Linked DNA regions of Homo sapiens. The protein of the gene in region 1 interacts with the protein of each later gene in a pairwise test. Each region holds a gene or a part of one and is shown in the gene's direction. Other genes may lie near its edges. The genes, in order: CALM3, HTT, CFTR, CACNA1C, IQCN, DAPK1 and JPH3.

What was found.
Region 2: the proteins of CALM3 (region 1) and HTT interact in binary tests that used the Homo sapiens proteins (3 or more experiments, as listed by UniProt).
Region 3: the proteins of CALM3 (region 1) and CFTR interact in binary tests that used the Homo sapiens proteins (3 or more experiments, as listed by UniProt).
Region 4: the proteins of CALM3 (region 1) and CACNA1C interact in binary tests that used the Homo sapiens proteins (3 or more experiments, as listed by UniProt).
Region 5: the proteins of CALM3 (region 1) and IQCN interact in binary tests that used the Homo sapiens proteins (3 or more experiments, as listed by UniProt).
Region 6: the proteins of CALM3 (region 1) and DAPK1 interact in binary tests that used the Homo sapiens proteins (3 or more experiments, as listed by UniProt).
Region 7: the proteins of CALM3 (region 1) and JPH3 interact in binary tests that used the Homo sapiens proteins (3 or more experiments, as listed by UniProt).

What each region holds. Positions count from the first base shown.
Region 1 is NC_000019.10:46,604,155-46,608,297, forward strand, and holds part of CALM3 (calmodulin-3), read left to right. Parts: intron 1-1,672; coding exon 1,673-1,703; intron 1,704-3,669; exon of another isoform or gene 3,670-4,042; coding exon 4,043-4,143. UniProt on the Homo sapiens protein: Calmodulin acts as part of a calcium signal transduction pathway by mediating the control of a large number of enzymes, ion channels, aquaporins and other proteins through calcium-binding. Calcium-binding is required for the activation of calmodulin.
Region 2 is NC_000004.12:3,126,351-3,130,517, forward strand, and holds part of HTT (huntingtin), read left to right. Parts: intron 1-913; coding exon 914-1,254; intron 1,255-3,573; coding exon 3,574-3,697; intron 3,698-3,954; coding exon 3,955-4,073; intron 4,074-4,167.
Region 3 is NC_000007.14:117,486,078-117,490,244, forward strand, and holds part of CFTR (cystic fibrosis transmembrane conductance regulator), read left to right. Parts: intron 1-4,167. UniProt on the Homo sapiens protein: Epithelial ion channel that plays an important role in the regulation of epithelial ion and water transport and fluid homeostasis. Mediates the transport of chloride ions across the cell membrane.
Region 4 is NC_000012.12:2,685,729-2,689,895, forward strand, and holds part of CACNA1C (voltage-dependent L-type calcium channel subunit alpha-1C), read left to right. Parts: intron 1-7; coding exon 8-114; intron 115-437; coding exon 438-541; intron 542-2,718; coding exon 2,719-3,051; intron 3,052-4,167. UniProt on the Homo sapiens protein: Pore-forming, alpha-1C subunit of the voltage-gated calcium channel that gives rise to L-type calcium currents. Mediates influx of calcium ions into the cytoplasm, and thereby triggers calcium release from the sarcoplasm.
Region 5 is NC_000019.10:18,267,325-18,271,491, reverse strand, and holds part of IQCN (IQ domain-containing protein N), read left to right. Parts: intron 1-1,900; exon of another isoform or gene 1,901-1,904; 5' UTR 1,905-2,013; coding exon 2,014-2,026; intron 2,027-3,926; exon of another isoform or gene 3,927-3,965; coding exon 3,966-4,167. UniProt on the Homo sapiens protein: Essential for spermiogenesis and fertilization. May be required for manchette assembly in elongating spermatids.
Region 6 is NC_000009.12:87,703,676-87,706,976, forward strand, and holds part of DAPK1 (death-associated protein kinase 1), read left to right. Parts: intron 1-2,456; coding exon 2,457-3,301. UniProt on the Homo sapiens protein: Calcium/calmodulin-dependent serine/threonine kinase involved in multiple cellular signaling pathways that trigger cell survival, apoptosis, and autophagy.
Region 7 is NC_000016.10:87,689,506-87,693,672, forward strand, and holds part of JPH3 (junctophilin-3), read left to right. Parts: intron 1-140; coding exon 141-1,021; intron 1,022-4,167. UniProt on the Homo sapiens protein: Junctophilins contribute to the formation of junctional membrane complexes (JMCs) which link the plasma membrane with the endoplasmic or sarcoplasmic reticulum in excitable cells.

The sequences.
Region 1 (4,143 bases):
GCATTGCCTGGTCTCGGTAACCAGAAGCCCATCCTCCCTTCTCACTTTCCCTAAGCCTCTTCCTCAGGTGTCAGGACCTAAGGGATGGCTCCAGGCTTTTTTGTCCATGGTGGGAGGTGGGGGGCAGGTGGATCAAGAGGCTCATGGGCCTGGGGCTACCAGGTTGGCATTTAGAAGCCCAACCACCCTGTCTTTTTTGAAGGCAATGCAGAAGAATCTTCATTTGGCCTCCCCACCTCCCCTTTACACTTTGGACTTTTCCAGAATGTGCATGTGTGCCGTTTTCTCCCTTCCTCTTTCCCCCTCCCTAAGCCCTCTCCCCTCTGTGATCATCATTTTGATTACCCCTCCCATTCTGCCTATTTGGGGCTTGCAAGTTCTTCTTCCGTTAGGTTTTTTTTTTTTTTTTCTAACTTTTTTAGATCAGTGATTGTTAATATTTGGGACGGGGATGGGGGTAGGGGAGGCAGGCAGTGGTTTGTTCCTAGCTTCTGGAACCTCTCCGTAGAATACTGCAAATTCACATAATAGTCTGCTTCTATTTCTGAGGCTCTCAGACTCGAGACTAGAACATGCTATAGACTTGGAGCCCCTTTCCCTGATTGTGAAAGGAAGGGGAACAGACCCACCATGGTCCCGGGATGGTGGTGCCTTCTTCACAGCATCAACAAAAACCAGGGAAAATGTGTCTTTTGGCTGCTAAAGCTAAATGTTGGGATTCAGCCTCCCCAACCCCCCAGCCCCGCTCCTGCCCCATAGGATCACTATGCCTGGCTGATGCCCAGCACACCAGTGCAGGAGAAGCCAGTCCCCGCATCTCCTCCCCACCCCCAAACCCCGCATGCAGCAAGGGCTGCCTGCCACCCACTGGCCAGTCCCCAGAGTGCCCAAGCTGGAAAGGGTTAAAAACTGCAGTGCAAGCCAGCTTCAGTCCTCTGCTGCTGCCCGCTGCAGCCCTCTCCCTGACGTTTGTCCCTTCTGCCCAAAAGAAACAAAACAGAATGGCCCTGTGCCCTCACTGTGCGCAGGGGGTGGAGCGCCTGCCTCCAGCCTGACCAGAGTTCTTTAGGTGCTTGAGCAACTCGGGCCGCCGGTTAGGAGAATTTTTGCCACTTGGGTGGACTCTGCCTGAGCCAACCGCCTCCAAATAGGTGACACAGAAACTAGCAGAGATAGCCCCAGACATCGTCCCTCTGCCCTACCCAAGGACTGGCCTGCTTCAGTTTGGAGCCTTCTAGAGCTTCTTGATGAGGCCTCCAGGGCAATCGTTCCCTTCACTCGGCCTCTGGGGCTCTCACTGATGAGATGCAAACCTGTGCCAGGCCTCACCAGCGCTGCTGGTTTGGGGCTGGGGCAGGCTTTTCTCCCGCCCCTGTGGCTCCCACATGCTGAGTTGAGATTGGAAGCCCGTGGGTCTGGGCAGCTTCATCGGGCCGTGCGTCCAGCAGGCCTGAGTGTCCAGCCCACCCTGGTACCCAGCTTTCTGAATCACCAGACTTTATCATCAGGCGCTGGCTCTGCCTCAGACCCTGACTCTGGCATGCTCCTCCCTGGCCCGGCGGGAATGGCACGTGGAGCTGGCCTCACTGGGGCCGAGGGTCTGGGCTGAGTGAGGAAGATGCGTCCGTGCTGTCCGGCCTGGTGACTGACTTTCCCCTTCATGCTTTTACAGGCTGACCAGCTGACTGAGGAGCAGATTGCAGGTGAGTCTGCTATCCCCCTCATCTTAGCTCAGGAAAGCCTCCACATCCCCAGCCAAATCTTAGCCACTGAGGAGTGACATCTGATGGGTGAACCTGTGTATCCCTTGTGTCACCTAACACTATGCCTTGTGCCTAGAATGCTGATAAATGTGTGTAAGAGCACACCAGTGCCCCAATGACACGAAGCCCCATGGCCCTGAGACAGGCCTTTACCAGACACCAAAGGCTGTGTTCCTCTCCTGGGCCTGGGTCATCTAGGGGCTTGATATCAGTGGCTGCAGGACGAGCCCAACTCTCTCTCCCAGCTTCAGCCAGGTTGGCTTAGAAGGTGAGCTCCCTGCCTCCCTGTGGGGCCTGCAGAGCTCCTGTCCCACTTTAGGAGCCGCCCAGGAGCTGGCTCGTCACTCCCACCTCTGCGCTTGCCTGCGCTTTGCACTTCCTTTCGCATGTGCCTGCGCCTGCCTGTTCTGCTGGCGGAAGTGCCTCCCCAGTGCTTTGCATGGGCAGCTCCTTCCCGTCCCTTAGCTCAGATGTCCCCTCGGGGAGGCCTTCCCTGACCCCCATCTCAAGTACACAGCCTTCCTTTACTCTCCTTCACATCACTTTATTTTCTTCATAACCTTTCTCGCTGTCTGAAATTATTTTCTTATGTCTTCACCTGTTGTATCTCCTGTTACTAGATGTGAGTTCCATTGAGTTTGGGACTTGGTTTTGTTGGTCCCTGCTATAGCCTTAATGCCTGCCTAGAACGTAGTAGGTCCTCCGCAAACTTTTGCTGGCTAAACAAACATCTCTCTCTCAGCAAGCTAGAAGAAATCCCTGGATCCCATCTAATTCATTTTTCTAACCCCTCCAAAACCCCAGAAGGGTCAGCTACAGGAACTATTGTGTAATTACAGATCCGTGCCTGCCTACCCGCCCATACTGAGCTGCCCGAGGACAGAGAGCAACTCTTGGTTTATCTCCATAGCCAGGGGCCAGCACACAGTAGACCAGAGTAGCGATCCAGAGAATGGGCCTCTGCTCCCCACCAGCTACCCAGCCCCCAGCTCTGCTGTCAGGTTCAACCGGCTGTGTAACAAGTACTAAAGGCCCAGCTTCTGCGGTGGGAGGCAGGAACGGACTTGCCTTCTCTCCTTTCTCCCCTCAACCCGCATCACAGAGTCACCTTTGCAGCTTCAAAATTTTGGCCCTGGGTGGCTATGGAGACCCCTGAGGAAAGCCAGAAGATGGCCTGGTTTAGTGATCATGAGCTCGGGGTGCCCCATGACCCACTCACTACCTGCCCTCCCCAAGAACAACAAGGCCTCAGCACAGGGAGGTGCCAGCCTCCCCAAAGAGACTCTTGCCATGTCCCCAGGGCCCAGAGGCTCAGGGCCACAGCTTCCCAGCTGTGCATGTCCCTCCCAATGCACCTGCCACCCATCTCCCAACTCTGGCCTTGTGCAACATAAACGGTCTGCTTTTCACCCTGTCCCCATTAGCAAACTGTCCACCGCCTCACCCCAGCCCACACCCTCTGGGAATAGGCTGCCGGACATCTGTTTTTGGAGGGCTTGGGGGTAGAGGAGCACCAGGTGCCAAAATGGGCCCAGTGGGAGGGCAAGAGCCATGTGCTTTTCTCCCTGCCCCTGATGCGGCCCCAGCTGTGGCCTTCCCACTCAGCACTGCTAGCTCCTCATCCTCCTGGCTTGGCAGCCGTCCCCTCGCTTTCCATCCCCCCATCAACCCCACGCACTGTCCGTCAGCCATGTTCTGCTGCCGACCACCCCCACGCTCACCACACGCAGTGGCTCAGCTCCTTTGGAAGCTGGTAGCACCCACGGCAAGGAACAGGGCTGCCAGTCAGAAGGGAGTGGATGCCTGCATTTCCTCTTCAGGCCGGCCAGAGGCATTCTGCAGCCTCCCCTCCTCGTCCCAGCCAGCCAACCCTGGCTAACACACTCAGACAAAGAATCCTTTCGGCTCTCATTCACTCCATGACTTTGGTTCATTTCATCATTTCAAGGGAGAAGTCAAAGCCAGGGACCAAACAGAAATGTAGAATCATCTAAGGACAGCTGTCAGACCATTTTCCCCACTGTCTTCACTGGCTGGCCAGAAAAATAGCTTCACCTAGCACAGTGTTGATGTTCAATAACTGTTGAATGAAGGTTGGAAGGGCTTTGCCCTGAGCACTGAGGAGAGAGAGCTGGTTGCGTGGGACTTGAAGTCTGTCTCAGTTTCTTTAGGTGGGACTGATGCCCTTGGCCTTCCTCCAGGGAAGGCATCCAGCATCCAGAGGTAAGGATTCTCCTGTGGACCTTGTGACCTCTGACTCCTCCCCCTTCTTCCCCCAGAGTTCAAGGAGGCCTTCTCCCTCTTTGACAAGGATGGAGATGGCACTATCACCACCAAGGAGTTGGGGACAGTGATGAGATCCCTGGGACAGAACCCCACT
Region 2 (4,167 bases), on another chromosome or scaffold:
GCCAGTTACAGATACTTATCTAATGAAATTCTCTGTGTACTTTATAAAAGATGAGGATTAACTGAAGGTACTAATAACTGGATTATATGAGGGTGGTTTTGGTTGTATAATCCTATCTAAAAGAATATTTTAGCTATAACTGAAAGTAAGACTTAAATATTTAGAGAGGAAAATCTGAATAATTCTAGTAGTAATTATTTATTTACAAAATAAAAATAGATTTTTTTTTGATTACACAAATTAAACAACAATAAAACATCACAGCAATCCGGATACTATAAAGCTCACATGCTTACCGACCCAACTGCCCCAGGAGTGACCACTGCCAACAGCTTCATGTCGACCTTTTTGCCATAATTTTTATATAGCCTTTTTTGTTTTTAAATGGTAATTTAGAAAGTCAACTAGGAAAATGTGTTACAGGTTTATCTTCCAGGAGAATAGGACTGGAGTCGAGATCTTGAATGTGGCTTGGAAGAAGGCAAGCCCACCCCAGAGAGATGAGTTGACAGTTGTTTCTGACCACTGCTTGCTTAGAGGGCCTGCGTGTCTGTGACCGCCTAGCTTTGCGCCCCTGACTAGGCTGCCCCTTAATTACAAATGTCTTTATATATTGCTCCAGCTAAGGCTTGGAGTAGTCGGTTAAGAACTTGAACTTCGGTTTTTGCAGTGAAACAGCATTTGAGAATATCACCTTCTGATAAGCCTTATTTTATAAGGTGGGTACTGTAGTGGGAGGCAGTGTGAGAGATGCTTGAAGGATGCACTGCTGTCCTGCATTTCAGCATCTTCAGGATGCTGTGCAGCTGAAACATTTGATAACGGTGGAACTGTTCGTTATTTTGCAAGCCTGTGATTCCCTATTGAATGTTTTCTCTCGCCATTTGACAAATGAGTGTTTCTCTGTCTTCAGCCTCAGTGAAGGATGAGATCAGTGGAGAGCTGGCTGCTTCTTCAGGGGTTTCCACTCCAGGGTCAGCAGGTCATGACATCATCACAGAACAGCCACGGTCACAGCACACACTGCAGGCGGACTCAGTGGATCTGGCCAGCTGTGACTTGACAAGCTCTGCCACTGATGGGGATGAGGAGGATATCTTGAGCCACAGCTCCAGCCAGGTCAGCGCCGTCCCATCTGACCCTGCCATGGACCTGAATGATGGGACCCAGGCCTCGTCGCCCATCAGCGACAGCTCCCAGACCACCACCGAAGGGCCTGATTCAGCTGTTACCCCTTCAGACAGTTCTGAAATTGTAAGTGGGCAGAGGGGCCTGACATCTTTTTTTTTATTTTTTATTTGAGACAGAGTCTCACTCCATAGTGCAGTGGAGGCCGGGCACAGGGGCTCATGCCTGTAATCCCAGCACTTTGGGAGACTGAGGCAGGCGGATCACTTGAGGTCAGGAGTTCGAGACCAGCCTGGCCAACATGGTGAAACCCTGTCTCTACTAAAAATACAAAAATTAGTTGGGCGTGGTGGCACATGTCTGTAGTCCCAGCTGTTAGGGAGGCTGAGGCAGGAGAATTGCTTGAGCCTGGGAGGCAGAGGTTGCAATGAGCCGAGATCGTGACACTGCACTCCAGCCCGGGCAACAGAGCAAGACTCCATTTCAAAAAAAATAAAAAAATAAAGTGCAGTGGCTCGTTCTCAGCCCACTGCAACTTCTGCCTCCCAGGCTCGAGCGATTCTCCCGCCTCAGCCTCCTGAGTAGGTGGGATTACAGGTGGGCACCACCACACTCAGCTAATGTTTGTATTTTCAGTAGAGACAGGGTTTCACCATGTTGGCCAGGCTGGTCTCAAACTCCTGACCTTAGATGATCCACCCACCTTGGCCTCCTAAAGTATTGGGATTATAGTTGTGAGCCACCATGCCCGGCCCTGCCACCTGCCATCTTTTGAGTTCTTCCCTGGAGACCTAGACCTGAACCCTCCTGCTTGTTCTCTTGTTATCTAATACCCCTATTGACAGCGCAGCTTAGATCATTAATGGAGAGCTTGACCTCATCTGATACCTTCACTGAAGGAAACAACTTAGTGTCTTTTGTGTTGAACACTGAGGTAAAAAATTGGAATAGTTGATTATATGAACTCTGCTAAAATTGAGTGCATTTTACATTTTTTAAGGCCTTGTTGGGCCCTGGTTAAATAATTATTTTTAAAAATCCTTAAGGAGCCTATTATAAACAGATCTGTGGTCTTAATGAAATGTGATTAATACTGTGCATTATTTTAAGAACTTTTGACTTTTCAAAAAACTTTTACAACATTTCCCATTTGATAGCGGCATAGGTTTAAGCACTTCTCATCTCTAAGTTAGTGGACAAAAAACCCTCATGGATAGTCTAATAATGTTTGCTACAAGTCCATGTTGAGTTTTATACTCCATTTTATTTTCAGTTTTAAAAACTGTGGTTAAATATGTGTAACATAAAATTTATGTTCTTAACCATTTTTTGCGTATACAGTTCGCTGGTATTAAATACATTTAAATAATGTCATGGAATCATTGCTACCACCCATCTCTGTAACCTTTTGATCATGTAACACTGAAGCTCTGTTCCCATTGAACTCTATTCCTCCTTTCCCGCCAAGTCCCTGGCAACCACGATTCTTCTTTCTGTCTTCTGAATTTGACTACTTTGGGTTCTCATATACTTTAGGAGTCACACAGTATTTGTTTTACTTAGCATAATGTCCCCAAAGCTCATGCATGTTGTAGCCTATGTTAGAACTTCCTAATGTTTCAGGCCAAATACTATTCCATTGTATGGATAGGCCACATTTTGCTTTTCCATTCCTCTGTCCATGGACACTTGTATTGCTTCATGTTTTAGCCATTGTGAATCATGCTGTTATGAACGTGGGTGTACAGATAGCTCCTGGAGACTCTGCTTTCCATTTTTTTGGCTAAATACCCAGAAATGGAGTTGCTTTTACATTCCAATTTTAATTTAAAACATTCATATCATTGAGTGTTTTACTTAATAGTATAGTAGTTAACAAACTTAATAAAATAGTATTTTGGTAATAATTTGCTGGTAGTCCATTGTTCAGTTTTTTTAGGTAAATTACACAGGACATTTCAAGTGGACATGAAACATCTTGTGATGTGGAATCATGCCCCAAGCTGATGGCTAAACATATGAAATACCATACCCTAAATTTAGTAGATTTAGTCTTTGCAATTTAGGAGATAACCTGTTATATTGTTAGGTTTTTGTCGAAAAGCTTTGTCCTCATATTTCCAACTTGCTGTAAAATTTGTTTGTGAAGACAAATATTTTTGTATGGGTTTTTTCTTTTTCATATTAAAAAGAAATGTCCACATTGGAATTTTTTTGGAGTTTTTAGAGCTAATAGAGCTTTTCATAATGTAGTGGGAATGAGTGATCAGTAAGCTCTTAGCAGTTTCCATGCGTGCATTTCTGTGCCTTGAAATAAATGACAGATGAGTACATTTGTGTTCTGTGTGTAAAATGTGCTCTTTCCTCATTGCACTTCCATGTTGGAGGGCTTGTCTCTTGGTGATCACACTTCAAAATTCTCACAGCCCCCCTTGAACCGTTTAGGTGTTAGACGGTACCGACAACCAGTATTTGGGCCTGCAGATTGGACAGCCCCAGGATGAAGATGAGGAAGCCACAGGTATTCTTCCTGATGAAGCCTCGGAGGCCTTCAGGAACTCTTCCATGGGTATGTGGACTACAGGTGATGCGCTACAAAGTGGTTTGTATTCAGACCTGGACATCTTAATTATATCTTTGCTTCCAAGAAGAAGTCCTTTGATACTGTTTTCTGAGTTCTGAATAGCTGATGAAAATGACCAATTGAGGAATAATCATACTTTTTCTTGATCTAAATCTTATACTTTTGAGTTATCTTAGCATAAATGTATAATTGTATTTTAAGTGGAAATTTGTCACTTAATCTTGATTTCTCTGTTTTTAAAGCCCTTCAACAGGCACATTTATTGAAAAACATGAGTCACTGCAGGCAGCCTTCTGACAGCAGTGTTGATAAATTTGTGTTGAGAGATGAAGCTACTGAACCGGGTGATCAAGAAAACAAGGTGAGGGACATAGGCTTGAGACGACTTGGTGTTTCTGAGCTTGTGTGAGGATTTAAAATCGCCCTGGCTACTGTCTACTTTATTGCTTTCCCAT
Region 3 (4,167 bases), on another chromosome or scaffold:
TCTTGTGTCCCTTCTGCCTTAGCCTTTGTAGGATAGCATGCTTGCTAATTTCTTGCTCATGGGGTAAGGAAATGAAGATTTTTGCTAGGTCCGTAGGATTATTAGGACTACTCAGGCCTGAAGCTATGCCTGGATATAGCCAGAAAACTCTCCCATAGCTTGCTCCAAGGAGCTGAGATACAGCAGTACTTCCTTTGTAGGTCATGATTCTGGGTAACCTGGAAGATGACCTCATTCATATTCTGTATTCTATGTGAGACGTTAAGAAGGTAGAGGTGGCCAAGAAGGAAATTGTTGCTGCCTTTATGGAACAAATTATCTGAAACCCAGCTTTCTCGAGGGCTTCATTGAAGTACTCAACTGGGGCACTTAACCCAGTCTAAGGCTGGTCAAGGAAGGCTTGCTGGGGGAAGTGTCTTTTGTATTCACACCTAAAGGAGGTTATTCAATTAGAATTATCCAAAGAGGGTAGGGATGGGCTAGGAAAAATTTAAACAGGTAGTGTGGAGGACTGACAGGATAAGTAAGCATGGCACCTTCAAAATATCCTGAGAAGTTCCCTATGACGGGAACATAAAATATGTGACAGAGATTTGTGGGAGATGGGTCTGGAAACTCTAGCAGGGGCCAGATCGTAAGGGGGCTTTGTAGGCTTTGTAGGCTTTGTTTGGGCTTTATCATACTGGAAGTGAAAAGCCATGGCTTTTAAACAGGAGAGGGACATAATCAGTTCATATACTGTTGCAGTTTTGTAAAAGAAAAGATGAGCTGAAAGAGTGGCCATGGTGGAGGTGGGTGGGGTGGGGGGGAGGGGGCGGGGAGAGAGAGAGAGAGAGAGAGATTTGAAAGACATTTAGGAGGTAAAATCAACTGGTTTGGTAATCAATTAGTAGTTGAAGGTGAAGGAAAGAGAAGAGTTAAGGATAACATCTATATTTGTTGATTTGGATAATAGAGGGGACAGTGGTGCTGCTTATTGAATGAGAAAATTTAATCGGAGAAGAAGGCATGGAGCAGGAGTGCAGACCTATGTGACTCTACTTCTCTCAAAACCAGAAACGGAAATGATGTATATGGCTCAGGGTTAGGTAATATGGTTATTTGAAAATGTATTAAAGTGATTTAGAGCTTAGTCTTAGGTAAGAGATATAAGATGTCTGAGGTGACAGTTTTATAAATATGTAGAGTGCCCACTTGTTTGGCCTTATTGTGGCATAGTGTGACCTGAGAGTGTTAGGAAGAAGCAGCTGAGTTCTAGGGACAGTACTGGTTAAATTCTACTTAGAAATTATACTTAGAACTCTCCTATATAACCTGCTAACTGATGTCTGAACCTCCTGATAACTTCACTCCTTTAGGCAGTGCTTTTCACATCACGGGACACAACATATGAGAGATCATAGAAATTCAATGTGGTATGAAAATCTGCTTGGGACTTCAGATATTGTCTCCAGTGATTGAATAAAAATAGGAGCTCACCTACTATGATGAGGTTTCTGTGTGTGTTAAAAGAAGGTTTTCATTACTTTTGAAAAGGTTATGTATCCTTGTTTTATGTTAAAACTTTGAGCTTTGTTAAATATGCAGAGTTCTCTTTCTTAGCATGGACTACAGAGGTGCAACTACCTCCTACCTGACTTCACATCTACTCCCAAATGCCTAGTGAAGGCTTAATAATTTCAAAAAGGGACTCTAGAATTTCATTTGATACCAGTCAGACAAATGTGTGAAAATTAAGCATAATAGGCAGAATCCCAGGGGTACTGACAGCTGTATTAAGAGGTGATTCAAGGGCTAAACCTTAGAGTCCAGCATTGGTTATGGGTGTGACAAGAAAATGAAGCCTATGTTGGCTGGGATTAGCAACCACAGTTCTAGAGGAAGCAAGGTGGAGAAACTATATAGGGGGCTCCCTTTGTACGTTTTATTTATTTTAAACATCTCTATAAACTCTAGAAATTAAAACAACAATACCAACACAAAAGCATCACTTTTTCGACCAAAGACCATTGCTATACTTTTTTGTGTAAAGGGCTAGATAGTAAATATTTTCAGCTTTGTGGGCCACATAAGTCTCTGCAATAGACAATATGCAAACAAATAAGCATGGCTGTGTTTCAATTAAACTTTATTATGAACATTAAAATTTGAATTTCATATAACTTTTACATGTTGCAAAATATTCTTTATTTAAATTCTATTGCAATATGCTTTAAAAGATACAGTTTTTAGTCTTTCTTAGTTTAAAATAAAATCTAGAAAAAATTTTAAGTCTTCTATAACTTTTTTTCGGTAACTGAATAATTTTAAAAGTAAGTGAAACATTTAGACATGCAAAATGGACTTTTCAGAAGAAGAAAATGGTAGCTTAACAGTTATTAGATTATTGTCCAGAATAATTTTTGACTTATAAGTCTCTGTTGACCATTTCATTGCCTCTTTTTTTGGAATATGCATCTTTTAATGTGTCCTTCAAGGCAAAGGCTCTATCTTATCTATCTTGTGTCTTGCATTTTCCCAGGGCAATGTTTTTCACAATTTTTTTAAAAAACAATACTGTAATCAATTTTCAAATAAAATTTTCCATGGGACCGCAGTGTATACAAATAGCAGTGACAATAAAAGATAATAACTCTCCCATAAATACAAAGAAACAGTTAACCTAGTGCTCTAAAGTAAAGGCTACAGTGATTTTGTATAACATTTATATGTAATTTTCTTGATCCTACATGGTTGTGTTTTTCACAGTGTTATGTTTCTGAAATCGAGATGCCTTTTATAATTGATGTCAAAAGAAACTTGTCAGCCACAAGGCCCAGGAATAAGTTGTAATATGGGAACTTAGCAATACATAAAGGTATATATACTCCTGTGACCTCAGCTGAATTATTTGCATTGGTTGCATCCCACAAGGTTGACTCTTAAATAAATTTAGTTTGTTGCTTGAAATTTCTTGGGATAAATTACTTTGTGATGTAGTTTTGAAAAAAAAACAGGTAATATTTAGTCTGAAGTTTGTCTGACATACTAAGCAATGTAATTAAAGTAGAAGTCGCCTAAGCTCAGCACTTTATTATGCCTTGAAATTATACTGCCTGTCCTACAGGTGAAGGTGTTATGAATGCAGTTTGTCACTGTAACTCTATTCATAGCTCTGAAAGGCTGAGAGTGACTCAGAAGAATATTTTTGCTCTGAATATGAAGAACGCTTAGACTAAAACTTTAATTACGATGCTGAAGAAGAAAGTGGTAGGTGATTGCATGAATAAGTATGTAATATTGTTAATTTCTAAAAACTGTGTATAGTTAATGTAGTGCTTCTTTTTGGAAAGGCTATTGTTAAATTGATGGTAAATTCTATAACCAATATCACCTTAAAGCAAGTACGCATGATAAAGTATTATAAAACCATGATAATATCATATGTGGCTTATTATTGTTCCCTGAGTGTTGTACAACTCTGTTATGCTGTGATGAAACCTCATGCAAACAGGTATGTCAAAGATATGATGGGCTGTTAACTGAGCTTGGCCCACATATGGTGTAGTGACATGCTCACTAATGCAGTGCAGAGATAACCAATAACAGATCATAACAGGTTTAAATATGTGCAAGGAGATGTCAGCAGAAGCTTTCCTACATAGTGAATACTAAACAAGCCTGACAGCCCAGGATCATGTTCGGATCAATCTAGTGTGCTAAAATTAACATATAGTCCTACATTTGAGAATGTGTGATTTTCTTGGTTCCTGTCTATAAAATAATATTTTAAAATACATACATTTCAAATCAGAAGTTGGTGAATTCACTGAAATATTTCTAGAGAACACTAGGTATTGGGGCTCATAGTGTGAAAACCACTGACTTAATTCTTCCCCCATCTTGGTTGTTCCTGATCTTCCCTTGTGTCCCCATTCCAGCCATTTGTATCCTTAGAAAATGATCTCATATTCTACTTCATCTTTATCTTCATTGTCAACTGTCAGGTAGCAATATATGATGGAAGAAGCATGTACTTTGGAATCAGACAGACCTGGCTGGAATCCTAACTCTGTCACTTATTAACAATGTGATCTTAGGCAATTTACTTAATCTCTCTGAACCTCAGCTACTCTCGTCAGTACAATGAGTTATCCTTATCTTTACATGGCACAGTATTATTATGAT
Region 4 (4,167 bases), on another chromosome or scaffold:
GTTCCAGGCTCTCCTACCAGGATGACGAAAATCGGCAACTGACGCTCCCAGAGGAGGACAAGAGGGACATCCGGCAATCTCCGAAGAGGGGTTTCCTCCGCTCTGCCTCACTAGGTAAATGCACCGCTCGCTCTCTGGATGTGGTCGGCGGTTACTCCCTAGAGAACACTGGTCAGGGATGATTGGGAAATCGTTGTGGCCTGCCTCAAATCAGCCCCACACAGTGGGGCATTTCCAAAGCAAGGAGACAACATTCCAAAGGCAGGGTGTGCAGGGATGAGCCCTGGACACCAGAATACGTCTCAGACGAGGGGAGGGGAAAGGAGGAGCGTCTCGGGCCATAGTTACTGCTCCTGGCACCCCACCAGGGTGTAAACTGTCACAGGCCAGTGCCCTGTTTTCCTGCCCTGATGGTGGCTCTCTGGCTGGCTTTGCAGGTCGAAGGGCCTCCTTCCACCTGGAATGTCTGAAGCGACAGAAGGACCGAGGGGGAGACATCTCTCAGAAGACAGTCCTGCCCTTGCATCTGGTTCATCATCAGGTAGCTCACACTTTTGGACAGGCCACTGTCACCTGCCAGCAGGCCAGACAGTCCCCAGGGTGACGGACAAATCCTGAAGACTTCAGTGGGTCTTGCCTGTCTCAGATGGCTGGCACGTCCTGCCCCTGCCCTAAGAGCCATCCCTGTAGGGCTTCACACTCCTGTGCAGGTGAGGGCCACGGCAAGGTCTGCAGCATCGCAGGTGGGGGCCTAGGAAGTGCTGGTGCACAGGAGCTCTTTGTGTGATCCTGAGGACCCACAGCTGCAGGTTCCACCTGAGCTTTCTTCTTAGGCTGCCACAGATGCCACTGACGCCTCTGACACTGGCCTATGCCTCAGGGCACTCAGGAAGATGTACTTGTACCTAGAGTTTGAATATACCTGGAAATTTTGCCACACAAAAATCCATCCAGTGACATAAAGAAGTGATTAAAGAACCCACCAGCAACATGGTCAAGAGTAGGGAATGACATCCGTGGGAAGCAGGTCCAGGGAGATTCCATAAATGAAATGTCTCTTGGCATGGCTGACTCCAGCTGAGACAGTGAAATCCAAGATGCCAGGACCAAACATGCCTTAGTATCTTTGAACTTCAGTGTTATCTAAGGCCAGTCTATTAACCCCAGGCAAACTGAGGTCTAAACCTGGGTTTCCCAACATTCTGACCTTATTAAAGTTATACTCTTTTATAGCATGGACCTATGTTTTAAATAGACCTATGCTTTGTACCCAAAGGCATTCAACTGCCAATCAAAAGTCATAATCAGCATGAGATGGCCAGTGTGGCCTGGCTGAGTTGATAGTACTTCAGCTCCAAAAAATAAACAGGTTTTCTTAGCCTGTGTGGTGTTGTCTTCCACTGGGCTTTCTGAAATAATGAATATGGCCTTACACTTTTCTCAGATTCCCAGGGACCCAGGAGCCCCAGGCTGAGGACCACCATGGGCAGGGGCAGGAGGTGGAAGGATGTGGGGACACTGTGTGTGCTATCTTAAAAGATTTCTAGAAGTCGATTTCACCTATCTGTTCTTGTCGTACTGGTAGGCACGAAACTCTCCTCTTCATCTCTTTCTCCTCCTGTACTCTGTGACCCTAGAGGTGGTCTTTCCCCACCACAGTGTCGCTCTCTCCCGGGAGCACATCCCATCAGAGCAGCTCACCCTGCAGAGCCTCTGCCCTGGCAGGTTGTCATGGCAACAGCCAGACAGGCCTGGTCCCTACCCTCAGGATGCTCAAGAATATTCAGGGACAGAGGGCGTACCGTGTGACTTTTTTTTTTTTTTTTTTGAGACAGAGTTTTGCTCTTGTTGCCCAGGCTGGAGTGCAATGGCACGATCTCGGCTCACCACAACCTCCACCTCCCGGGTTCAAGTGATTCTCCTGCCTCAGCCTCCCAAGTAGCTGGGATTACAGGCATGCACCACCATGCCTGGCTAATTTTGCATTTGTAGTAGAGACTGGGTTACTCCGTGTTGGTCAGGCTGGTCTTGAACTCCCGACCTCAGGTGATCTGCCCGCCTTGGCCTCCCAAAGTCCTGGGATTACAGGCATGAGCCACTGCTCCCAGCCCTGAATCTTTTAATCACAATACAGCACCGGATTTAACAATGGCTCAAAGACAACCTGAGCTAGAGACTGGCAGGGCATTATGAATGGCCCCATTAACTGTGAGAACTAAAACCACAAATACTGGTTTTCCCAACTCTTTGTGAGGTGCACAGCGCTTCTTCACAGACCTCATTGCGCTTGAGCCTCACACCAGCCCCACAGGGCAGATGGATAGACAGCATTCGTTTTCTGGCTTTACAGACATGCAGGCCTCACCCTGCTCTCCATTCTATTGAGGACAAAACCAAGAGCGAGAGAATGCACAGCTGACAGGTGACCAGGCCAGGGCTAAAAGCAGGTTACCACGACTTCACCCAATCCCAGCTTTCAGAAGTTACAGGAGAAAGAGATCACTTCAGACCCAGATGATCCTAAGATGTATTTTGAGATAGTTGAAAGTCATGCCAGGTTGAGATAGGACCGACAGGGGAAAATAATGGCATGGGAATACCAGGCAGGTGGAGCTAGCTGGACACAGCAGCTGCAAAGCAGTGCTTGCTCAGAAGCAGGGGCCTGCCTTGTTTGGGGTCGGCCACTCCTATTAACTCACACTCCTTGTGTGTCCGCAGGCATTGGCAGTGGCAGGCCTGAGCCCCCTCCTCCAGAGAAGCCATTCCCCTGCCTCATTCCCTAGGCCTTTTGCCACCCCACCAGCCACACCTGGCAGCCGAGGCTGGCCCCCACAGCCCGTCCCCACCCTGCGGCTTGAGGGGGTCGAGTCCAGTGAGAAACTCAACAGCAGCTTCCCATCCATCCACTGCGGCTCCTGGGCTGAGACCACCCCCGGTGGCGGGGGCAGCAGCGCCGCCCGGAGAGTCCGGCCCGTCTCCCTCATGGTGCCCAGCCAGGCTGGGGCCCCAGGGAGGCAGTTCCACGGCAGTGCCAGCAGCCTGGTGGAAGCGGTAGGTGACTCGCAGATGGGCAGGGGGGAGAGGCCACGGGCAACAAGGGGACTTGGCATGCGGGGCTGAGAAGGGAGCACCTGGCTCTTGCCAAATTCATTGCAGTCAATATCTGAGCCCGAAAGACCCTCCCTCTCAGGGCTGCAGGAGGGCTCGTGTGCGGAAAGCCATGACTGCACAAGATGCTATGGGCTCTCTTGAGGCTGGGCCCACTGCAGAGGGCGGCAGAAACCACTGAGCAACTTATCCCTTATACTGCAGCTGCTCGACATGCAAATGTGAGCCTGGCTGCCTTTATACACAGACAGGCAAGATCCAAGGTGCTCAGGCCTGACTGCCCGTGAGCATCACCTGGGGAGCTTTGGAAACCCGGGACAGATTAACTGATGATTGTTAAAGCTCTTCGATGATTTTAACGTGTAGCAAGGTTGAGAGCCACTAGCCTAGAACAAGCGAGCTTTCAGTCCCACTGTGCTCTGCCTGGTCAGAGCATCTAGTGCAATCCCGGCACCACATTATTAGGGACCTTTGACACACTGGAACAAACCCAACAGAGGATGACCAGGATGGCAAGGTTCCTAGAAACCATTTCCTAGGAGAACCGTTTCAGGGAATTCGGGAAGAAAACCTGGAGAGGAGGTGACTTTGGAGGGTGCGATACACCTCTCACACCTGCAACGGGTGGGATGGGGAAAGGGTGGCAGGCTCAGCCCACCAGCGGACAGATTTCAGCTCACATGGGGAAGACCTTCCCAAATGAGCTCTTCCAAGATGAGAGGGGCTTGCCTGAAAGGTAGTGAGCCCCCCATCATCAGACATAGCCAAGCAGAGACTGTGCTCATCCGGGCGTCAGGCTGTGGTGCAGGAGGTGGGGCGTTAAACCAGGTGGCTTCCAAGGTTTACCTCTCAAAGTCTGGTATTCCTGTGGCCTCGATCATCCTGCATTCATTTCACAGACCTTCCCTGAGCGCCTACCATGTGCAGGCCCTGTTCTAGGTACAGGGACACAGCTGAGAAACAGAGCTTCTGCTCTCATGAGCTCACATCATGGTGAGGAGAGACAGATAATAAACACATACATATATAACACATCAGGAAGGTCAGGAGTGCCAAAGA
Region 5 (4,167 bases), about 28 Mb from region 1:
TTTTATCTTTTTTTTTTTTTTTTGAACTGAGTTTCGCTCAGTCACCCAGGCTGGTGTGCAATGGTATGATCTCAGCTCACTGCAACCTTTGCCTACTGGGTTCAAGAGATTCTCCCGCCTCAGCCTCCTAAGTAGCTGGGATTACAGGCACCTGCCATCATACCTGGCTAATTTTTGTATTTTTAGTAGAGACAGAGTTTCACCATGTTGGCCAGGCTGGTCTTGAACTCCTGACCTCACGTGAGCCACCCACCTCGGCCTCCCAAAGCACTGGGATTACAGGCGTGAGCCACTGCGCCTGGTTTTTTTTTTTTTTTTTTGAGACAGAGTCTCACTCTGTCGCCCAGGCTGGAGTGCAGTTGCGTGATCTCGGCTCACTGCAATCTCCATCTCTCGGGTTCAAGTGATTCTCCTGCTTCAGCCTCTGAAGTAGCTGGGATTACAGGTGCATGCCACTGTGCCTGGCTAAGTTTTGTATTTTTAGTAGAGACGGGGTTTCACCATGTTGGCCAGGCTGTTCTCGAACTCCTGACCTTGTGATCCACCTGCCTTGGCCTCCCGAAGTGCTGGGATGACAGGTGTGAGCCACCATGCCTGGCCTCCCAGGTTACCTTTTATCTTATACTTACTCTTTAATCACAATCTTTTTTTTTTTTTTTTTGAGACAGGGTCTCAGCCAGGCACCGTGGCTTACACTTGTCATCCCAGCTACTTGGGAGACTGAGGCACAAGAATCACTTGAACCTGGGAAGCAGAGGTTGCAGTGAGCCGAGATTGTGACGCTGCACTCCAGCCTGGGCAAAAGGGTGGGACTCTGTTTTAAAAACAAAAAAGAGATAGGGTCTCATTCTGTCGCTCAGGCTCGAGTGCAGTGGTGCCATCGTAGCTTACTGCAGTCTCAACCTCCTGGCCTCAAATGATCCTCCTGTCTCAGCCTCCCGAGTAGCTGGGACTACAGGTGCATGTCACCATGACTGGCTAATTTTTATGTTTTTAGTAGAGACGGGTTTTACCATGTTGCCCAGGCTGGTCTGGAACTCCTGGCCTCAAGTGACCCACCCACCTTGGCCTTCCAAATTGCTGGGGTTACAGACGTGAGCCACTGTGCCCGGCCTATTTTTTTTTTTTTTTTGAGACAGTTTTGCTCTTGTTGCCCCAGATGGAGTACAATGGCACGATCTCAGCTCACTGAAATCTCTGCCTCCCAGGTTCAAGATATTCTCCTGCCTCAGCCTCCTGAGTAGCTGGAATTACAGGCGTCAACCACTATGCCTGGCTAATTTCTTGTATTTTTAGTAGAGACGGGGTTTTACCATGTTGGCCAGGCTGGTCTCGAACTCCTGACCTCAGGTGATCCACCCTCCTCGGCCTCCCAGAGTGCTGGAATTACAGGCGTGAGCCACGCCTGGCCAATTTTTTTTTTTTTTTTTTTTTTTTTTTAAGAGACAGTTCTTGCTTAGTTTCCCAGGCTGGTCTCAAACTTCTGTCCTCAAGTGATCCTCCCATCTTGGCCTCCCAAAGTGCTGGGATTGCAGGCAAGAACCACTGTGCTCAGCCTGGACGCCATTTCTGATGCCTGGATATCATGCCCTTGTATGATTAATTTAAGCCTGTCTCCATTGATAATTTTGGTTTCTTCCAGTTTTTCCTCTGCTAAACAATACAGTGTTAAACATCCTTGAACATACTTCTGTATTCATTTGTAGCAGAACCTCTACCAATCACTGTTTTGGTTATTTCCAGTTGTTTTGTTTGATTTCTAGCTACAAAATAACACTGGAATAAATTTCCTCATCTTTGCACATTTTTTTTTTTTTTTAGAATTTAGCTTTTTTAGAATTTAGAAATTTTAGAATTTAGCATTTTTGCTTTTAACATTTCTTTTTGTGTTGGTCTTGAGCCAGCCCAGGGCAGTGTTGCTGCATATTGCATGGATGAAAGGCTGAAGGCTGCCTCCTCTTGCAGGCTGGCTTCTGAGATTGCACCTTCTTCTCCTGCTACTCCTCCAAATCTATGACCCTTCAAGGTAAGAAGATGGTCTATGGGCAAGGGGTCTGGCTAGTCCAACCTGAAGAGAGGGGCTTCTGCCAAACAAGTGTGCTGTGCTCCAGGCTATGCATCAGGGTGGCTTGACAGTGTCCCAGCTCTCTCTGCATCCTAGTTACTTCTGAAAGCCACAGTCACCACTTTTTCTTCCTTCTTTCCATCCTTCCATATGCCATTTACCTACCCATCCCCTAATCCACCCACCCACCCATCCACCCATCAGTCTACCTCCTGTTGGGTTATCTCTTCACCAGTCTTTCCAGCTCTCTTTAATTTCCCTCCCTCCCTTGCTTCCTTCCTTCTTTCCTTTTATTTGACACGGAGTTTCACTTCTGTTGCCCAGGCTGGAGTGTGATGGCGTGATCTTGGCTCACTGCAACCTCCTCCTCCCGGGTTCAAGCAATGCTCCTGCCTCAGCCTCCCGACTAGCTGGGACTACAGGCTCATGCCACCATACCTGGCTCTTTTTTTTTTTTTTTTTTTTGAGACAGAGTCTTGCTCTGTCACCCAGGCTGGAGTGAGGTGGCGCGATCTCGGCTTACTGCAACCTCTGCCTACCGGGTTCAAACAATTCTCCTGCCTCAGCCTCCTGAGTAGCTGGGATTACAGGCACGAGCCACCATGCCGAGCTAATTTTTGTATTTTCAGTAGAGATGGGGTTTCACCACGTTAGCCAGGCTGGTCTCAAACTCCTGACCTTGTGATCCGCTCACCTCGGCCTCCCAAAGTGCTGGGATTACAGGCATGAGCCACTGTGCCTGGCCTACTTTTCTGTATTTTTAGTAGAGACGGGTTTCACCATGTTGGCCCGGCTGGCCTCGAACTCCTGACCCCAAGCAATCTGCCCACCTTGGCCTCCCAAAGTGCTGGAATGACAGACATGAGCCACCGTGCCGGGCCAATTTGCCTTTAACACTTTATTCATCAGCTTTATTTACCTATTCATCCAAACCTTCATCTGTCTTTCCAACCCATCTACCATTCACTCATCGACTGATTCATCCATTCAGTATCTAGTCCTGTATCTATCTGTCCATCCAACTTCCAATCCACTCACCATTTATCAGTCAAGATGCCCCCCCCACCCAATACCTACCCATTCACAGCTTGGAACCAAGCTCTATGACTGAGATGGGGACACAGAAATGACTCTGTCTTCTAGGATTCACAATCAATGGGGAGAGGCAAATAATCTCCCCCACCACACTTCTCTCTCTCTCTTTTTCAAACACACACACACACACACACACACACACACACACACACACACAGAGGCAAACAGGAAATTTCCAAAACATTGTGATCAGTGCTAAACCCAGGGTACATCCAAGATAAAGTTTGAAAAGCAGGCCGGGCGCGGTGGCTCACACCTGTAATCCCAGCACTTTGGGAGGCTGAGTCAGGTGGATCACCCGAGGTCGGGAGTTCGAGACCAGCCTGGCCAACATGGTGAAACCCCGTCTTTACTAAAAATACAGAAAAGTAGCCAGCCAGGCATGGTGGCGTGCACCTGTAATCCCAGCTACTCGGGAGGCTGAGGCAGGAGAATCGCTTGAACCCAGGAGGCGGAGGTTGTGGTGAGCCAAGATCACAGCATTGCACTCCAGCCTGGGCAACAAGAGCAAAACTCTGTCTCAAAAAAAAAAAAAAAAAGAAAAGAAAAAAGAAAAGCAGGTAAGTGGTCGGGCATTCAGGTGTCATACACTGTGTGCCAAGATGAAGTGGCCGTAGGGTGATGAGAGGTGGATATAAGGATGGCAAAGACCACTTGGGAGAGGGAGGGATGGAAAAAGGGAGGCGGAAGATCGCAACGTGCCAGGAACAAGATCTGGGCCTGGGGGGCCAGTGTCCACCCCAGCCAGGAGACCTCTTGTTTGCAGGACCTGCTACACCCTGACCACCCCCTGCCGCCCCCACAGGCAGAGCTGACCTGTCCGGTAATCAAGGCAATGCAGCCGGCCGCCTAGCTACAGTTCACGAGCCAGTTGTCACCCAGTGGGCGGTGCATCCTCCAGCCCCCGCTCACCCCAGTCTCCTGGACAAAATGGAGAAAGCGCCTCCACAGCCCCAGCACGAGGGCCTCAAGTCCAAGGAGCATCTTCCGCAACAGCCTGCCGAAGG
Region 6 (3,301 bases), on another chromosome or scaffold:
AAGACAGAGAACTCTGGTGCACAGATACACAGAGTAATCATAATTAAAGATGCACATTAAAAAACTCTAGCAAGCAATGCCCAGCAGAAATGATTGAGAATGGGAGGCTTTGCTCTGGTTCTGTGACATTGAGCACCAGGGCGCGGTTTGGAAACCCTGTTCTAATGGCATCATATGCCTGTCCCAGGAACGGGGGCAGTGCCTTCGTGTTTCTCCACCATGTGAAATTGGGAGCCTACATGAACTAGTGTGGGCCAAGAAGAGCGGTTCTGAATATTGCAACTAAAAGCAGCTCTGAGATTATTAAAAGCCAGATGCTTACCTCCCCAATCTCAGGTGCCAGGTCTGGCCCTATAGCCAGTTTGTATGAGTCATACAAATTTCTTGAAACTAAACCTGAATCCACAAGCCAGTGACCTTGAAAACTGGAGTCGCCGGGCAGTAATTTCATCAGCCTTTAAACTCCCAGTTAAATGGCCAGAGAATCTGCCAACTCATCCAGGAATACTTTAAAGTGATTGAATCCAAGGAAGAACACAGGTGAAGGACCACATCTTAGATGACAAGATACTGCTGGATGTAAAAAATGTGTCAATTCTAATTCTAAACTCCTTTGGCACAGGAGTCCCTTGCTTTCTAGTAGTAGACCAGCAACTTTCTAGATCATATCATATAGTCTCCTTTATTTGTCATTACATCCCTGCTTGCCCTTGAGAGTTTAGTAAGTAAATGAAGATGTAAAGAAGGAGGGTAATTAGGCAGCAGGAACTACATTGTGTGGCCCGACTTTGATTGGCCCCGGGCCTCCTCCAGACCTGCCTTCCGTATCTAATTTGCAGATCTTCAGAACTCCCCAGTGGCCCTTCTGACTCTGTTTTCTGGCCCAGGGTCCCACACTACGTTTAGCTGACTGTCTTAGCTCCCTGTTCTCCTCCACTATGGGACAGTTTCGTCTTTCCTGAGCCTGAGGCGATGAGCAGTGTTTAGGACCAAACTGCAAATGGTATTCCAGCAAATGCTGTATCAGGAACTAGATCAATATTGGCTCTGCCCTCCAGGAATTTTCAACCTAGGTTCAATTCTGAATAGACTCTTAGACAGGGGGCATCTTTCAGGTTTAAGCCAGACTGTGGGCAGGAAATTACTGTGTGGTCACCGGTGGGGTCAGAGCCTCCAAGTGAGGGAGTCCAGGGCGATGGCCACTCTCCAAGAAAGGAAGCAGAACTCTTCCATAAAGGGAAAGTTCCTTCTGTTTTTTGTCACTTTTTTTTCCTTTCTTTTTATTTTTTTAAGAAATAAACACAACCAAAAAGCTAAAGTCCCCTTGGGCCATCATCTCTGGTCTCACTCCTCTCTCCCCTTCTCGGAGGCCAACTATTATCATGGCAGCATATCCTTTCAGGCCTTTTCTATGTGTGTGTGTTAAACATTCACATAATGGTATAATAATAGAATGTTCTGACTCTTTTTTGAAAATGTTCTCAAGCCTTTAGAGAAGTTGCAAGGATAGTACCATGAACTCTCATATAGGCTACATTTATTTATTTTTTTAATTAATTAATTAATTTTTTTTTTTTTTTTTTTGAGATAGAGTCTCACTCTGTTGCCAAGGCTGGAGTGCAGTGGCACAATCTCGGCTCACTGCAGCCTCCGCCTCCTGGGTTCAAGTGATTCTGCCTCAGCCTACAGACACAAGCCATCACACCCAACTAAATTTTGTATTTTTAGAAGAGACAGGGTTTTACCATGTTGGCCAGGCTGGTCTCAAACTCCTGACCTCAAGTGATCCACCCGCCTCGGCCTCCCAAAGTGCTGGGATTACAGGCATGAGTCACGGTGCCCAGCCTACTACATTTAAGCTGATCAGTTGTTGACATTTTGCTACATTTGCTCGATTCCTTTCCTTTCTATTTATTTACTTATTTATTTTGCAGACATGATGACATTTCTTCCCTAAATAATTTAGCCTATATCTCCTAAGGAGAAGGATATTTTCCCACATAACCCAATATAATTGATGATTCCAGAAACATAACATTAATATAGTACTATGATTGAATATATCATCCTCATACAAGGGTTTGCCACTGGTCCCAATAATTTCTTTTAAAGCTATTTTTATTTATGTACTTATTTTGGGATTCAGAATCCAGTCTAAAATCACTCATTGCATTTGGTTGCCATCTCCCATTTTTTTTTCTTCTTTCATTTCGCTGGCCTTTTTGAAGACTTCAGGGGAGTTGTTTTTCAGAATCTCTATTCTGACATTTTCAAGCTGCTTTTCTCCACTCGGTGTTTGGTTTTTGAGACGCATCCACGTGGAATGGCCTTGGGTCACTCCTTAGAGCATCTGCTCAGCCTCTGTTGCCGGCATCAGGCCCTTTAGTGCTCTAAGTGGCTGGTGCACCTGGCCAGGGCTCTGTCCCTAAGCGTGACTTTCTGTTGTCCCCCCGCAGATCAACATCATGCAAAGTGAAACAGTTCAGGACGTGCTGCTCCTGGACCCCCGCTGGCTCTGCACAAACGTCCTGGGGAAGTTGCTGTCCGTGGAGACCCCACGGGCGCTGCACCACTACCGGGGCCGCTACACCGTGGAGGACATCCAGCGCCTGGTGCCCGACAGCGACGTGGAGGAGCTGCTGCAGATCCTCGATGCCATGGACATCTGCGCCCGGGACCTGAGCAGCGGGACCATGGTGGACGTCCCAGCCCTGATCAAGACAGACAACCTGCACCGCTCCTGGGCTGATGAGGAGGACGAGGTGATGGTGTATGGTGGCGTGCGCATCGTGCCCGTGGAACACCTCACCCCCTTCCCATGTGGCATCTTTCACAAGGTCCAGGTGAACCTGTGCCGGTGGATCCACCAGCAAAGCACAGAGGGCGACGCGGACATCCGCCTGTGGGTGAATGGCTGCAAGCTGGCCAACCGTGGGGCCGAGCTGCTGGTGCTGCTGGTCAACCACGGCCAGGGCATTGAGGTCCAGGTCCGCGGCCTGGAGACGGAGAAGATCAAGTGCTGCCTGCTGCTGGACTCGGTGTGCAGCACCATTGAGAACGTCATGGCCACCACGCTGCCAGGGCTCCTGACCGTGAAGCATTACCTGAGCCCCCAGCAGCTGCGGGAGCACCATGAGCCCGTCATGATCTACCAGCCACGGGACTTCTTCCGGGCACAGACTCTGAAGGAAACCTCACTGACCAACACCATGGGGGGGTACAAGGAAAGCTTCAGCAGCATCATGTGCTTCGGGTGTCACGACGTCTACTCACAGGCCAGCCTCGGCATGGACATCCATGC
Region 7 (4,167 bases), on another chromosome or scaffold:
CCTTGCCTGCAGCCTTTCGGTGAGTGGGAAGCGCCTCTGCTGCCCTGAGGTTCCCTCTGGCGCCCTGGCCCGGGGACCGCGGCCTCGCTGTGGAATGTGCTGGGTAACGCCGTCTGGCGTCGTCTTGTGTCCCCATACAGGGCTGGAGTACCAGAGGCCGAAGCGTCAGACCTCCTGTGACGACATCGAGGTGCTGTCCACCGGGACACCCCTGCAGCAGGAGAGCCCCGAGCTGTACCGCAAGGGCACCACTCCCTCCGACCTGACCCCCGACGACAGCCCCCTGCAGAGCTTCCCCACCAGCCCCGCGGCCACCCCGCCGCCCGCGCCCGCCGCCAGGAACAAGGTCGCCCACTTCTCGAGGCAGGTGTCGGTGGACGAGGAGCGGGGCGGGGACATCCAGATGCTCCTGGAGGGCCGGGCCGGGGACTGCGCCCGCAGCAGCTGGGGCGAGGAGCAGGCCGGGGGCTCCAGGGGTGTCCGCAGCGGTGCCCTGCGCGGCGGCCTGCTCGTGGATGACTTCCGCACCCGAGGTTCGGGCCGCAAGCAGCCCGGGAACCCCAAGCCGCGGGAGCGGCGGACGGAGTCACCCCCCGTGTTCACGTGGACTTCCCACCACCGGGCCAGCAACCACAGCCCCGGAGGCTCCAGGCTGCTGGAGCTGCAGGAGGAGAAGCTGAGCAACTACCGGATGGAGATGAAACCCTTGCTGAGGATGGAGACGCATCCCCAGAAAAGACGCTACAGCAAGGGCGGCGCCTGCCGGGGCTTGGGGGACGACCACCGCCCCGAGGACCGGGGCTTCGGGGTGCAGAGACTGCGGTCCAAGGCCCAGAACAAGGAGAACTTCAGGCCGGCCTCCTCCGCGGAGCCCGCCGTGCAGAAACTGGCGAGCCTGCGGCTGGGCGGGGCCGAGCCCCGGTTGCTGCGTTGGGACTTGACCTTCTCCCCGCCCCAGAAATCCTTGCCTGTCGCTCTAGAGTCCGACGAGGAGAATGGGGATGAGCTCAAGTCCAGTACGGTGAGTGGGCGGCCACCAGGCTGGTCCCAGTGGAGGCAACATCCACCTCTCTGCTGACCTGGTGTTTCCTGAGGGTTTCCAGCAAGGTCACTGCTCCCCTGTTCCTCTCCAGGGGTGGAGTAGGGTGGGGGTACAGCCGGGAGTGGTGGCCCTCAGGTCGCTGGGACCCTCCCCTAGGAAGCCAGGTGGGGCAGGTGTCATACCTCTTTCCGTGAGAGGCTGCCCCCAGGTTGTCCAGAAAGCACACGAAACTCCTGGTTTCCAGGCAGCATGGGATCCCTGCGCTCCCCGCAACGTGCTCAACCCCAGCTGCTCCAAGAGTCTGTGCCCCTGGTCAGTAGCCTTGGGCCGTGAGATGACCGCTTGAGTGTCCTGTGTCCTGGATAGGAACCCAGAGGCGAAACAGCTGGGGGCAAGGCTGGCCCTGGGGCTGGGAGTCAGGTCTGGGGTTGGGGGGAGCTGCCAGTCCAGGTTTCTCTCACCCATGGGGGGTGTTGGGGTTGGAGCCGGCTCCCACGTGAGGCCCGCTGTGTGCAACTCACCGTCAGCCTCACCCAGCACCCCCCCCCCAAATTCGTTCCTCCAGGGCAGGCAGCTTGGAGGGAAGAACAGCGTCCCCCTGGGCTAGACTCGGCGCGAGGCTGGGGGTCCCAGGCTAGACTCGGTGTGCGAGGCTGGGGGTCCTGGTGCCTCACACAGGGCTGGCCTCCCCTTGAAGGGACCTTCACTCTGCAAATCCCACCCTGCTCCCTTGACCAGTGCTGCAGGAATGAAGGGCTTTGGGAATGAAGGGCTGTGGGACGGTGGCTACATAGGATCTGCGCACGGCCAGGCCCTCACCCCAGCAGGGCTCTGCTCGCTCGTGGCTGCCAGGCAGTGCGTGGTGCTGAACAGAAGTGCTGCAAGCCAGTCTGCCCCTCGGGTGTGAGGACGCAGGGGGGTGTCCGCAGGGGGCGCTCAGGGCGTGTGGGCCGGGCAGGGGGGACCATTGGTAGGTTTATTGTCGACGCTGCGGCAGGGGTCGGTGTCTGTCCCTGCCCCTGACCTAGGGGAGCTGTGGTTTTCTCCTCCTGCCAGCCCCACCCCCAGAGGGGTCACCGCGTGACACCCCTTTGAAGGGGCACGTCCTGCCGGGCGGCAATGCCTGTTTCTGCCTCTCCTTGGAACCACTGCGGACGTCTGTCTGTCCTGTTGGGTTCCTAAGATGCCTCCCCGTTCCCCAAAGCCCACAGAGAACAGCCCCTATGCTCCTGCTGGGACCAAAATACCAGCTCACACTTACAACTTGATTTTCCCCATCGCAGCCGGAGATGTGTGCGTGGCTGTGCGCGCGCGGTTATTTTAGGAACAGCCAAGCAGTGGGCAGGGTGGGAGGTGTAGGGACGGGTTCTATTTTTAGCCTGCTTAATGCACTGACACTTTTGGGTGCTTTTAAATGAACCTCCCTGGGGGTCAATGCACAAGCTGGGGACAAGTGCCAAGCTGGCCTCTGGGATGAGTTAGCGACACGCAGGGTGCTACATGCTGCCCTGGTCCTGCCCGGTCTCCAGCTGGGGCTAATCTGGAGGTCCCGTCAGCTGCAGCATCATGTCCCACCCACCCTGGAGGATGCCAGCTGAGCTCCTTGGAAGTGGCCACCCTGGGGTACCTGGTGCTGGTGCAAACAAGGTTTCCCTCCCTGTCTCCCTCCCCGTCTCCCTCCCCACAGCTTTGGAGCTGTGTTTTCTGCCAGGTCTGTGAGGGGAGATGGTGTGTAGAGGCGCGGTCAATCCTAAGCACTGTTCCAGGCCCTGTTGGTGGGAAGCAGGAGGGGCCCGTGCCAGCCGGCATCCATGTCAGGGGACAGGTGTCAGGGCAGTCGGGTGCCAGGCTGGGCTGAGTGCCTTCAGTGCCACCCCCTCACAGGGGTACAGCTCTCTGCAGTGTCTCCCCTGGGCCACCAGCAGGGTCTGGGGTGCTGTCTTCTGGCCATCCCCCTCCACCATTCCCAACATGCTGCAGAGCTCACACGCCAGAGGCCCTGGGTCCCACTGGCCACAGATGGGCCTGGGATTCTAGCCCACATAGGGTCCCACTGGCCACAGATGGGCCTGGGATTCTGGCCCGTGTAGGGCCCTGGCAATTCAGGGTAAAGTCCCTTAGGATGGAAGCACAGGTTCTCCCTACCGCTCTACTGGTGAAGGAACTCTGGCCCTGGCTGTTTCCCTCTTGGTGAAATGATGGATATGACCTGATGGTGGGGTCCAGGGTTGGAGGATGGCTGGGGAGACAGAAGCTTCCCTCCTGCGGGCAGCCACGCCCTCGCCCACAGCGTCCGTACCTGCTTCCCGGCCCAGAGCACGGGCTGGACTGTGGCAGAAGAGGTGCCACTGACCACCCCACTCTGTCCTGCTACCCCACTACAGGCTGACTAGCATCCGGCCCTTCCTCCTCGCTGGGGTGGGGGAACTTTGCACCAGGGGTGGCATCAGTGGGCAGGGCTGGGCCCTTGGCTGTTCTCTGCCCCCTGCAGGCTGGCCCGGCCCAACCAAGTTGTCATGGGGCCCAAGACTCACAATACACCTGCCTGAGGCCACGATGCCACGGAAAGCTGGGCTCAGGGCAGCTTGCTTTCTCTCTGGCTGAGTGGAGGCCCTTGCTGTGTCCACAACTCCACTTCCATCTGCGCCTCAGGTCCCTGATAGGCTGGGAGGTTGCGGAGGGTGTGGGCCTGGTGCTGCTGTGGCTGCAGGTGCCCCCTAGGCAGCACCTCACCCTCTGAGGACCCTCCTCTCTGAGCTGCATCCCAAGGACAGTTTACAAAGCCCTTTGCTGACTGGGGTTCAGCTTATCTGTTGAGCAAACTTTTTCTTTAAAAAGTTTCTTGGCCAGGCACGGTGGCTCACACCTATAATCCCAGCACTTTGAGAGGCCGAGGCAGGTGGATCACCTGAGGTTATCAGTTCGAGACCAGCCTGGCCACCAGGGTGAAATCCTGTCTCCACTTAAAAATACAAAAATTAGCCGGGCATGGTGGCACACGCCTGTAATTCCAGCTACTCAGGAGGCTGAGGCACAAGAATTTCCAGAACCCGCAGGAGGCAGAGGCTGCTGTGAACTGAGATCATGCCACTGCACTCCAGCCTGGGCAACAGAGCGAGACTCCA